Regions from separate parts of the Homo sapiens genome. Here region 1 is linked to region 2. The links come from fine-mapping of genetic effects on gene expression. A gene starts in region 2. The other region holds a variant in brackets. All regions are shown on one strand. Distances are from middle to middle. Region 1 overlaps EPHA5 (EPH receptor A5). Region 2 holds the start of EPHA5 (EPH receptor A5).

Region 1 (5,000 bases), 100 kb after region 2:
GCCCTTAAAAATAATAAAGTTGGAAAATTCGTTGAAGATAGATTTATTTTGTTTTATTATTTGTAAGAAACTGTTTCTGTAAGTCACTTTATCAGTTATGGTTTGAAAAAGTGTATAAACTATTTAAGATATTATTTCTATTGATATGACATATTTACCTTTCAAGACAAGTACTTCCTAAAATAATTTATTCTTTGAAAATGGGATGATAGTAATTTCACAACATTTGCTCATTTATCCTTTAATGTAAAATAAAACACAATATCAGAGGATGAAGCTTACATGTTTAAAAAAAAGGGATGCGTTGTTGTTAATTATTAATAAAAATTTTTAATATTATATTGCACATTTGTGTATAATTTATATTTAAAATCAAATTATAGTCCAAATATATGATTATTTGATATTTTATAACAAATTGTGAGTAAATCTAATTTTTTTATATCACAGGACAGAGTTTTTGATTATTTGAAATAGTTAATTCAAATGCAACAATATTTTGAGAGATAGAATTGTGTTAGGTGTCAAAAAAGACCTGCATATTCAATTCTCCTACTTACTATTTAATTATCCTTCAACAATTATTATTGGAACCACACTTTAAAGGGTGTACTTTACTTCCTCAATGAGCTATCTACCTTTAATAAAAATTAAAAGTTGTTTGAAAAATATAGTTGTCATCTGAGGTAACAGACACATTTTCTCTAGAGCAGATAAAATGATATGGGTCATGGTTACAAATTTTACCCAAAACAAGAGAGAGCCTTTACATGAAGTTAAACATGGTTTTGAGTGAAAATGAAACACTTTTTCAATTTCTATTATTCATGAATATATCTCCATTTTTTTCTGCACCAACATTTTGAGTATGAAAAGTAGCCAATAATTTATTGCCCCTGAAGAAAAAAAAATTCAAAGAATAGGATTAGTTTATCAGCAGGCAGAATTTTAAACAGGAGGATCAGACTAAAGGATGACTATAAGTCTGACAATATAGGCCAATGTCAATTAAAAGAGAAGATCAATTATAAAAGACTTTTCCAAACTCCCCACTGTAGAAAGATCCACTGATACATATTTTGAGTTTCACTATTTTGAGTCGAACATACTACTCAAGCACTTTGGTTAATAGGTGCAGTCATATTCTGTATTTAGTGCTCTTTGCAAAATATGCTTTTAGATATATGCACTTAGATATGTGTTGAAATTCTGTAAAAATCATTTTAAAGAGTATGGCATTTTTATTCCATTACATTTTCAATAACAGTATGTTTTATACTGACAGTTTGGCTATCACCAACTTGTACTTGAACATTTACTTTTCTTTCTTGTCAGAGCCCTTGTCTTAAGATGTCTCTTTTTCTTAATAGGTAGAATACTCACAAAGCCAAATTCTGAAGTTATTGATATTAACTTACATACACCAATATGTCACCAGTACATAGTATATGTTTTTGTAATGATGAGGATTGTCGGTTTGACATATTATAAGCATTTCAAGACCAAGTATTAAAACTTAGAATATAAGTGCTCTGATGAAACCTTGTTGAATGACGGAAGAGAGGGGTTTACTAAGAAGTTCATTTTTGGAAGTAAATTATCTACCAAGTTTGCTGACTTATGCATTGTATAGAAAAATAATTTGAAAAACCAACTTTTCAAGACATAAAAAGAAATTTGTCTTATAAAGATCTATGAACTTAAAGATTGTTTTTTGGTTTGCTTTTTGCTTTTACAGCACTTCAGAAATAAATATTTTTAAGTTTCTGTTAATCGTCAGAGTTTGATGAATGCACAAATAAAAGTGTGGAGTGTTTGTATATGGGTGTGTGTAGTCAGATAGTGTATAGTTCTTTTATATTAAGTATATAAGACCTATAAGAGGTTGACCATGCATAAATATACATTCCCACTATTTACCCTCAAAAACAAGCCTCCGTTATAAAAATTTTTTAAAAATTATCAAAAAATAAAGAAATGTAACAAATGTCAATGTACCAAAACAACCATTATATATTTTGGATGACCTTTAGTGATGTTACAGTTTGGGGGAGAAAAAAATGTAATAATTAGCATGCTGTCAATTGCATTTTACTTCTGTTAAACATGAGTGGCATAATACAGACAAGCCTTACAACTGACAGGAAGAGGCATTGCTAACCAGCAGATGTTTCTAACCACCTTAGAGCTTAAAGCTCATACGCTCAGTGCCTCTACTGTGAATTAAATTGGAGTAGCACTTTGCTGCCTCTCTAGATTTCCATCAAAAAAATAAAATAAATAAGGAAGAAAAGAAAGGAAGAATAAAGAAGATGGGTGGGTGGAATTGAAGAAAGGGCGTGAAATTGATTTAGCAAATGGTTCACCATTGGCATTACAGTTTATTTCTTGAAAAAATTGATATGGAAAGGTATTTCAAAAGAATATTAGTTTCATAGAGTGGATTTTTTAAGGAACTATGTGAGGTGTCAATTTGTGTGATGCAACTGGATATGAAGAATATTAAGTGGTTCCCTACAAAATATCTATACACATCTACCAGAGAGAATTGTGTGTTTGCTACACACTGCAATTTAATCCATTTAGACTGTTATTATATTGTGACATGTACACTGAACATCTTTGTTGCATGAATGGAATTGCTAAACAGAAAGAGGAGACCCCATTGTTTTTCACGTTACACAGTCATGAGAAAATGGGAGCAGAAAGCTCTTAATTACCATATTTCCATGTTGTAGAAGTAGGGCCCCCACAGAGGTCTCTTTGTAATGCCAAGGATAGTGGAATTATGAAAGACAAGTTTGAAAGGATATTTTGAAGGAATTGGAGAATTCAAGGTTATAACCCATGAATTGACTAAATAAAATATCAGCATTTCTAACATACCAAATTTGAAGAAAAGATCAACAGGGAGGAAAAAAATGAGATAGAAATAGTCTCCAAGTTTATTTC[C/G]TATTCAAAGTAGAATAGGAAATAAAAAGTGTTTATTCAAAATTATAAACTTAGAAACAGTTTTAATTTAAATTAATATTTCATTTATATTCTGTAATTTTTTTATTGCATTTTAACTGCCACATATATATTTCCCATAATATGTATTAGCTAGAGTTTGGCATCCTCCTAGCTTTACAGATTATCTTTTTTTTTTAATGGCTATTTTTGTCTGCTATTCTTTCTTTTGCCTTGCACATATTCAAATTTTCTAAATTTGCTGAAAGCAGAATATTATTTGAAGTATTGTTTATGAAAACAAGGTAATAAGTAGAATCTTATATTTTTATGAATATATTTTATTACCAAAAATACTGAAGTAAAATAAAATAAATTTGAGTACAAGCAAAATAAAAATTACTTTAAGCCTTATTGGAAATCTCTTATTAAATTTTACTGAAAAACATTTATATGACTTTTCTAATTATATGTTTGTGAGTCCCTTTCGCATGTAAGGGTAGAAGTTTCAAAATGAAATACTTTGTGAAGGCTTAAAAAGAGTTATTGAAATGAAATTGGATTGAATATATTGGGCACCACTGTTAAAGTGCTCTTTTGAAAAGATTGCATAATAATATAAAATTTAGTCTGCTAAAGGTCTATTAACTCTGATCCATTAGCAAATTGGTCACCATTGGCCTTGAATCTTATTTCCTGGAAAAGTTGGTTATAGAAAGGTGATTTGGGAATAGTCTTAGTCTTTAAAGTGAATTTTTAAGGAACCCTCTGAGGTGTCCTTACATTGCAATTGGATATGAAGAGTGTTAAGTGACTGCTGTGAAATATCTATATGCTTCTGCCAGCCCTCTATCTATTTTTAATTAACTGTATAATATTTATTAATAGATTGTATGTAATGAATAAGTGGAAATTATAGACTACTATAAGATTTCTTTCTGGATGCAATTGTGTAAAATTAGGTCATAAATTAACAGTGAAAGTATTTTGAAATTTATTTCCATAGAGAACACTTTGCATTAGAAATGCAAGTAATGAGAAATAGAAGCCCCTGATAAGTAATGCTGTGTCCTTGCATTATTAATTGTTTCTATAAAAGTATATATGTATCACCCTAAATACAAATACATTGCTTAATTCTAGTAATACTTCATTTTTTTCCATTACAACAGATATTTATCTACCCTTGTAACGTTGGGAAGTTCACGAAATGTATAAAACATTGCAGAACATAAGCCACTCTACTGTGAGATTTTTAAATAACTTGGTACATGTAGCTAAGAAGGGTTTAAAGTTTATAGTAATAGGATTGGTATAAATAGGGACTGAGCTCGGTTAACACGCACATATGCTTATAAAATGATACAATAAAAACAAAGTCACAATATATTCATAGCCAGGTCACTAGAAAGCAAAACGTATGGCGGTTAATTCTGGATTCACAAAAACCAAAACCATATGAAAATGAGGAAGAAAAGGAATAAGTAATTTTGACAATCTCCTAATGTAATATTTAAATTTCTAGCAATTAGGACCCCAGTAATTACCTAAACTTTAATAGGAGCTATCATTTAGAAATATTTGTTGATATGGTTGTAGTATTTTAGTCAAAGCATCTTTTGGGTTAAGAACTCCTATGGGTACTTTGATTTAGAAACTAATGTTGGTGTCTATGTGGTATTCCTGGGAGCACCTTCAATTAATATGCAAGAAAAATGATTATCTTGAGTTATTTGTGATACAGAAATACAGGGTGAAATATGTATGCACAAGTAAAATCAGGCCTCAAAGAAATCATTTTTTGTTTGTTTGTTTAAAACTGTGTGAAGCATAGCAAAGAGTAAGTTGGCTGAACAACAGATGATAATTTTGTTCAACACTTAGCACCAAATCCTTTGATAAAGGATACTTGGCAAAAAATAGTTTGAGAGGAAAATTTCTAGTATTTGTGGAATATGTTATAGTACTTGTTTTGATTTATTAGCCTTTGATATTTTTTAAACAGAGGGAAGATTTCTGAACACATACTATTGATGTCATTTAGCTCCCAC
Region 2 (5,000 bases):
ACTACTTGGATCACCTAATCTCATTTCCTCAGTTTTCTCATCATTAACATGGGGATAATAATTACACCAACATCAGGGTTGAAGTGTCAGCATTAAGTAAAATAGTTAAGGTAAAAACGTCACATAATGCTTTACACATAGCAAATCTTCAGGAAAAACTAGCAAGGCTTTCTGTCAAAATTGCTTTTCTTGAATCTTTGAATGCAGGGAAGATACATTTGGGCTTATTGATACACTGAACCTAACTATAATATTAAAACTTTTTATGAGGTTAGTAAACTTTCAAGGCACCTTATCAAGGTTACTTTGAATATCCTTCCTTCAGGAATACTTAGTACTGAAGTCACACAAAAGCACAGATCTTGGGAGACACTAACCACTTGCATCTTTTAAGGTCATAGTAGCTATTCCAAGAAATGAGAAATGCAAACAATAGGGCACCAAAACCAATATTGATGGCATGGCCTTTTGTTGTGCAAAACAATAAGTATAAAAGAAAAATATAAACCAAATCTAGTTTTCATGCAATGCCATGGTTCAATGTAATTGTGTTAAAATAAAAAGTATTAATATGCCAAGACATCAACACGTGGCCAAATGTGAATCTCCTTTGAGCTTGAAGTCCAAGTCAAACCACCATCATTACCTTTTCTGATTAACCCTCCTTAGATCAAAAAATGATTTTCATTGTTGTCATCAGAACTTCATGAACTTTACAGCTTCAATGAACTTTACAGCTGTTCATTCTTTCAGAGATGTGTAATCAATATTATTAAAGAACTATGAGAAAGATGGCTGCAATTTAAGGTGGAGAATACAAAGAATTTTGCTTTCTGTATTCTCAATCATGTAACTTAGCTATGTTGGGAGAAGATAACACAATTATGCCCATGCTGACCAGCGTCCCAGGTTTTCTTTGACAAACCAGATTTAAATTCTGTCTTTCTTCTCTTTAGATATAGTTAGACAATTTTATTCCACCTTTGATTCAGAAAATATTGGCATTGTGTTGATTTATGTAAAGCTATGAGTACTTTGAGGAGGAGAACGAAGTAACTTTTTTGTTGAGAAAAGAAGAATTTAATCTTGAGTGCCTGGCTCTCCTAGGACACTGGGTATGATTTAGATGACAGTAGTGTGTGTGTGTGTGTGTGTGTGTGTGTGTGTGTGTGTTGTGGTGGGGTGAGGTGGGGGGCGGATAAATATTTCCAGAGGTGGGATTTCTTTAGAATGGAATGACAGGTAGAAAAATCAGAGAGGCATGAGGTAATTTAGGGGAAAAATGAGTTTAACATTGTAGTATAGAATAAAAAATATATTTAAACCATTTGTAGTAGAAGGCTTTAAATTCTAGGCTGAAAAATTTGGTTATTTTGTGGCCAATAGTAAATAATTGGAGATAGATGAACAGGGTAGTCACATAGACATGCAACCAACGGAAGGGAAGAAGGCTTGAAGATTGTCTTCTCCAAATTCCTCATTTTACTGATGAGGATACTGAAGCCTGTAGAAGTAAAGGAACGAGCTCAAAGCCCCATTAAACTCATATTAGTTTTACTACATATTTCTGGGCTTTAGATATCGTAGTTGGTATTCTGCTTAAATATTTTTAAGTAACTCAATTATAATTGTAGGGGAGAGGGGAGCTTACATTTTGAATGGTCCTCAAATAGAAACATAAATTTTAACTTTCCATCTCACCCGTGAGGCTTTTTGCCAAACTGAGAAACTGATTCACTGCTCTTCCTCTAAATTTGCTTCATCCATTCGGAGCACATTATAATAAAAAGAACCTGCTTTCAGACTTCTGGTGCCAAAACATTTCAGGAAAAAAAGAAATCAAAGATGAGCTTTCACCTCTTTACAAAATTGCATCACTGCTGCTTTATTCTTTCATCTTTATTGCAAATATTTAAACAAAAAACAAATGTCACCAGCTAAAGATAGTGAGGAATTTATTGTGGAGACAAACAAGGCTCTAGATATGTCAAAACTGGTGAGCTGACTCACCTTTATTAGGTGTGAACGGAAGCCCAAGCTTTACAGTGGTTACTATACATGAAATTAAATGAGATATCTTTCTTCTATAATCAGACCTTTCTGTAAGTGCTTTCTCTGCAGCCTTTTGTTTTTAAATGCCTGTGTACTAAAATTGTCCTTCAAATGTATCTCTTTGAAAGAATGAATAAATCGAGGGAATATACTAAAGCAAGAAAAGACATAATAGAGGTGAAGCATAGAAAGTTGATTGTTTTAACTGTTTTTTTTTTCACTGTTTGTAAATCTCCCAATGCTATAGGGCACAATCAATTAAAATAATTAATTTTTCAAAACCCTGAATTTATTTGACCGAGGCTAATTTCACTGGAATGTATGTCGTGTATCTGCATATCGTCCAATTTCTAAAATACTAAAACATTTTATCAATGAAATAAATGAATTAAATCGCCACCTATGAAAGTACCTGGCACACTACAAATCTCAATAGTCAAATTCTTTGACTCCTTGAAATCTCAAACAGAGCTACCGCCTCTTTATTTACTCTACAATTTACTTCTGAAGAAAACATTGAGTAATTATCCTATTCCAGCCATCAAAGTATGGGAAGAACAGAAAGAGTCAGCAGCGGTAAGCGGTATGGGTGTTTAAGAAACTAGCCACGGACCAGCAGAGCCTGCGAATGCGCGGCGATGTGACGACAAGGTTGTTGATGCCACAGCCTGTGAGGGACAGCAGGCAAGATGCCAAACGGAGGGACCCGCGTCTCTAAGGGCCGCCGGCTGAGCTGGGGCTGATCTCCCTTCCGCCTCCCGGGAACCCCAGTCCTCGCCAGCGTCGTCAGGATTCCTTGCCCTAATTATCCCGGGAGGAAGACGCGCCTTTCCCGGAGACCGCTAGGCAACACTCACCAAGGCAGCCTCCAGATTACTTCCCTCCGTGGGTGTGTGACTTCGTCGAAGCAACTCACACTTACAGTAGATTCTCACTGGCGAGGCTGCGAGCAGCAGAGGGCGGGGGAGCTGGGAAGAGGAGGAGGGAAGGAGGGTGGGAGGCGCTGAGCTGGGAGGCAGAGGAGACGCCGGAGCTCCAGACACAGCAGGAGCGCGCCTTGGCGGTGCAGTTTCAACCTCGACTTCGCAGCCGCGCACACACCGCCTGCTCCCCGAGCAGCGGGAACCGCAGCAGCTCCTGGGCCGCCGCAGCGCAGCTCCGCGCTCCTACCGGCCGGCAGCCGTCAGTCCCTCCCCTCTTCAGCACTCAGCCCGCAGCTATTTCCTTCTGCCAGTCTCTTTGAACTCTGGATCTTTGCTTTTGCTCGCTGCTCTCCTGTTTTTCATTCTCCACATTTTCTCAAGTCCTCTTTCTTTATCCTTAGCCACCCTGCTTTTTTCCTCCTTTTTTAAAAAATCGGAGATTTCGTCTTAAAATGATTTGCCTTCCTTACCTTCGTCCATTTCAACACTGAAGGCTGCAAAGAACCTTCACCTTTCCCCTAGTGGTATTTAAAAATTCTCAATCCGTAAAAAGTCTTTTTGAAAGGCAAAGGAACAGGACCCAGGACCCTCTCGACACCCTTGATCCGAGTCCAGATCTGCACTAGCAACCAGAACTAATATTTCATTTAACCCCACCAAAGGGGGAGGCGAGAGGAGCCAGAAGCAAACTTCAGCTGTCTCAGCCGGATCCGTGGTTCCTACATTTGGAGGAGCCGCGTGCCAGAAGGCGTAGGACCCCAAGGGGGGACAAGGAGGACTCCCGAGTCTCCCTTCGCCGCTCTGCGAGGCCGAAGCGGTGGACTGAGCCGCTCGGGACAGCGGCACCGGAGGAGGCTCGGAGAAGATGCGGGGCTCGGGGCCCCGGGGTGCGGGACGCCGGCGGCCCCCAAGCGGCGGCGGCGACACCCCCATCACCCCAGCGTCCCTGGCCGGCTGCTACTCTGCACCTCGACGGGCTCCCCTCTGGACGTGCCTTCTCCTGTGCGCCGCACTCCGGACCCTCCTGGCCAGCCCCAGCAACGAAGGTAGGGAGATGGGGGTGGGGACCGTGGCGACCTGGGGCGGAGGGGCTAGGCGGGGCCTGGGAGTTCAGGTCTCAGCGCGCTGGACGCTGCTGCTGCAGACTAAATCGCAGTCTCATCTCAAATTGGTATTTGTCGTCCCCTTCCACTGGCCTTTTCGCTCCCCTCTGCGGTTTTTGGTTGCATTGTTTGACGTTAGCTGCGGAGTGCTGGGCAAGGAACATGCGTGTGGACAGAGGCTGGTTGGGGGGCTGGGAAGGTGGAAAACCTTGGGGGAAAGGAGGTCGAGGCCTCCTTTGGGGAATGGAGGCCCGTTCCAGGGGGATGGGTGCGGCTGGGCCTCACTTAAGGCGCGTGGGGAAGTGACATTTCGGGCTTGAAGGAGTGGGAACTGTTGGAAGCTCAGTGACAAGGATCTCTGGAGCAGTGGGGCTTTTAGAAACCGTTATTTGAGGCCAGTGATGGGAAACGTTGTGGGGGTGGCTGGATGCTTTTATTTTTGGGGAAAGTGCCTGCTGGGAGCTGTTATTTAGGGCATCACCAGCTGCTATTCTGGGGTGGGTGGCAGGAGCTTTTATTTCTCGTGGGAGGGGTATAGCGAAGGACAGAAGGCGCCCCACACAGTTGGGTGCCCTTCTTCTTGGGGGAGTTCATTGTCACACTCAAGCCAAGGTGGAAGAAGGCGAGAAGGTGGGATGCCGCGGCAGGAGGGGTGAGGGGGAGTGTCGCTGCTAGGAAGTTGCCGCTAAAACCCACCTGGGCATGTCTTAAAGACGGAAAAGACCTGCTCTGGCCAGCACCTGATCCAGGAGTACCCAGTCCCCCTCCCTACCCCCAATCCTGTGCTCCAGACCCAGAATACTGTCCCTGCCTTTTTCTGGGAGAGTAGAGCTGGCGCGGGAGCAACACCTGTGTCGCTCTTCGTGCTCCCGGAACAGTGCTCAGCCCCTCTGTCCGCCTGCCTCTTGGACCTGAGACCTCT

Evidence for each region. PIP is the estimated chance that this variant, and not a neighbour inherited with it, causes the effect.
Region 1: its variant is the best candidate, but not a certain one, in a credible set for the expression of EPHA5 in tibial nerve (GTEx, PIP 0.67).

What each region holds. Positions count from the first base shown.
Region 1 is chr4:65,563,840-65,568,839 of GRCh38, reverse strand. All of the region lies in intron 3 of EPHA5 (EPH receptor A5), which reads left to right. Among named protein-coding and RNA genes, the nearest start is that of EPHA5-AS1, 100 kb to the left of the region's middle. The variant C/G (reference allele first, on the strand shown) is at 2,953.
Region 2 is chr4:65,668,583-65,673,582 of GRCh38, reverse strand. It overlaps EPHA5 (EPH receptor A5), which reads left to right and starts at 3,094. Exons shown (of 17, transcript NM_001281766.3): 1 at 3,094-4,021. The coding sequence starts at 3,841. It overlaps EPHA5-AS1 (EPHA5 antisense RNA 1), which reads right to left and starts at 3,622. Exons shown (of 4, transcript NR_034138.1): 1 at 2,910-3,622; 2 at 1,702-1,807. RefSeq lists an enhancer at 4,945-5,000.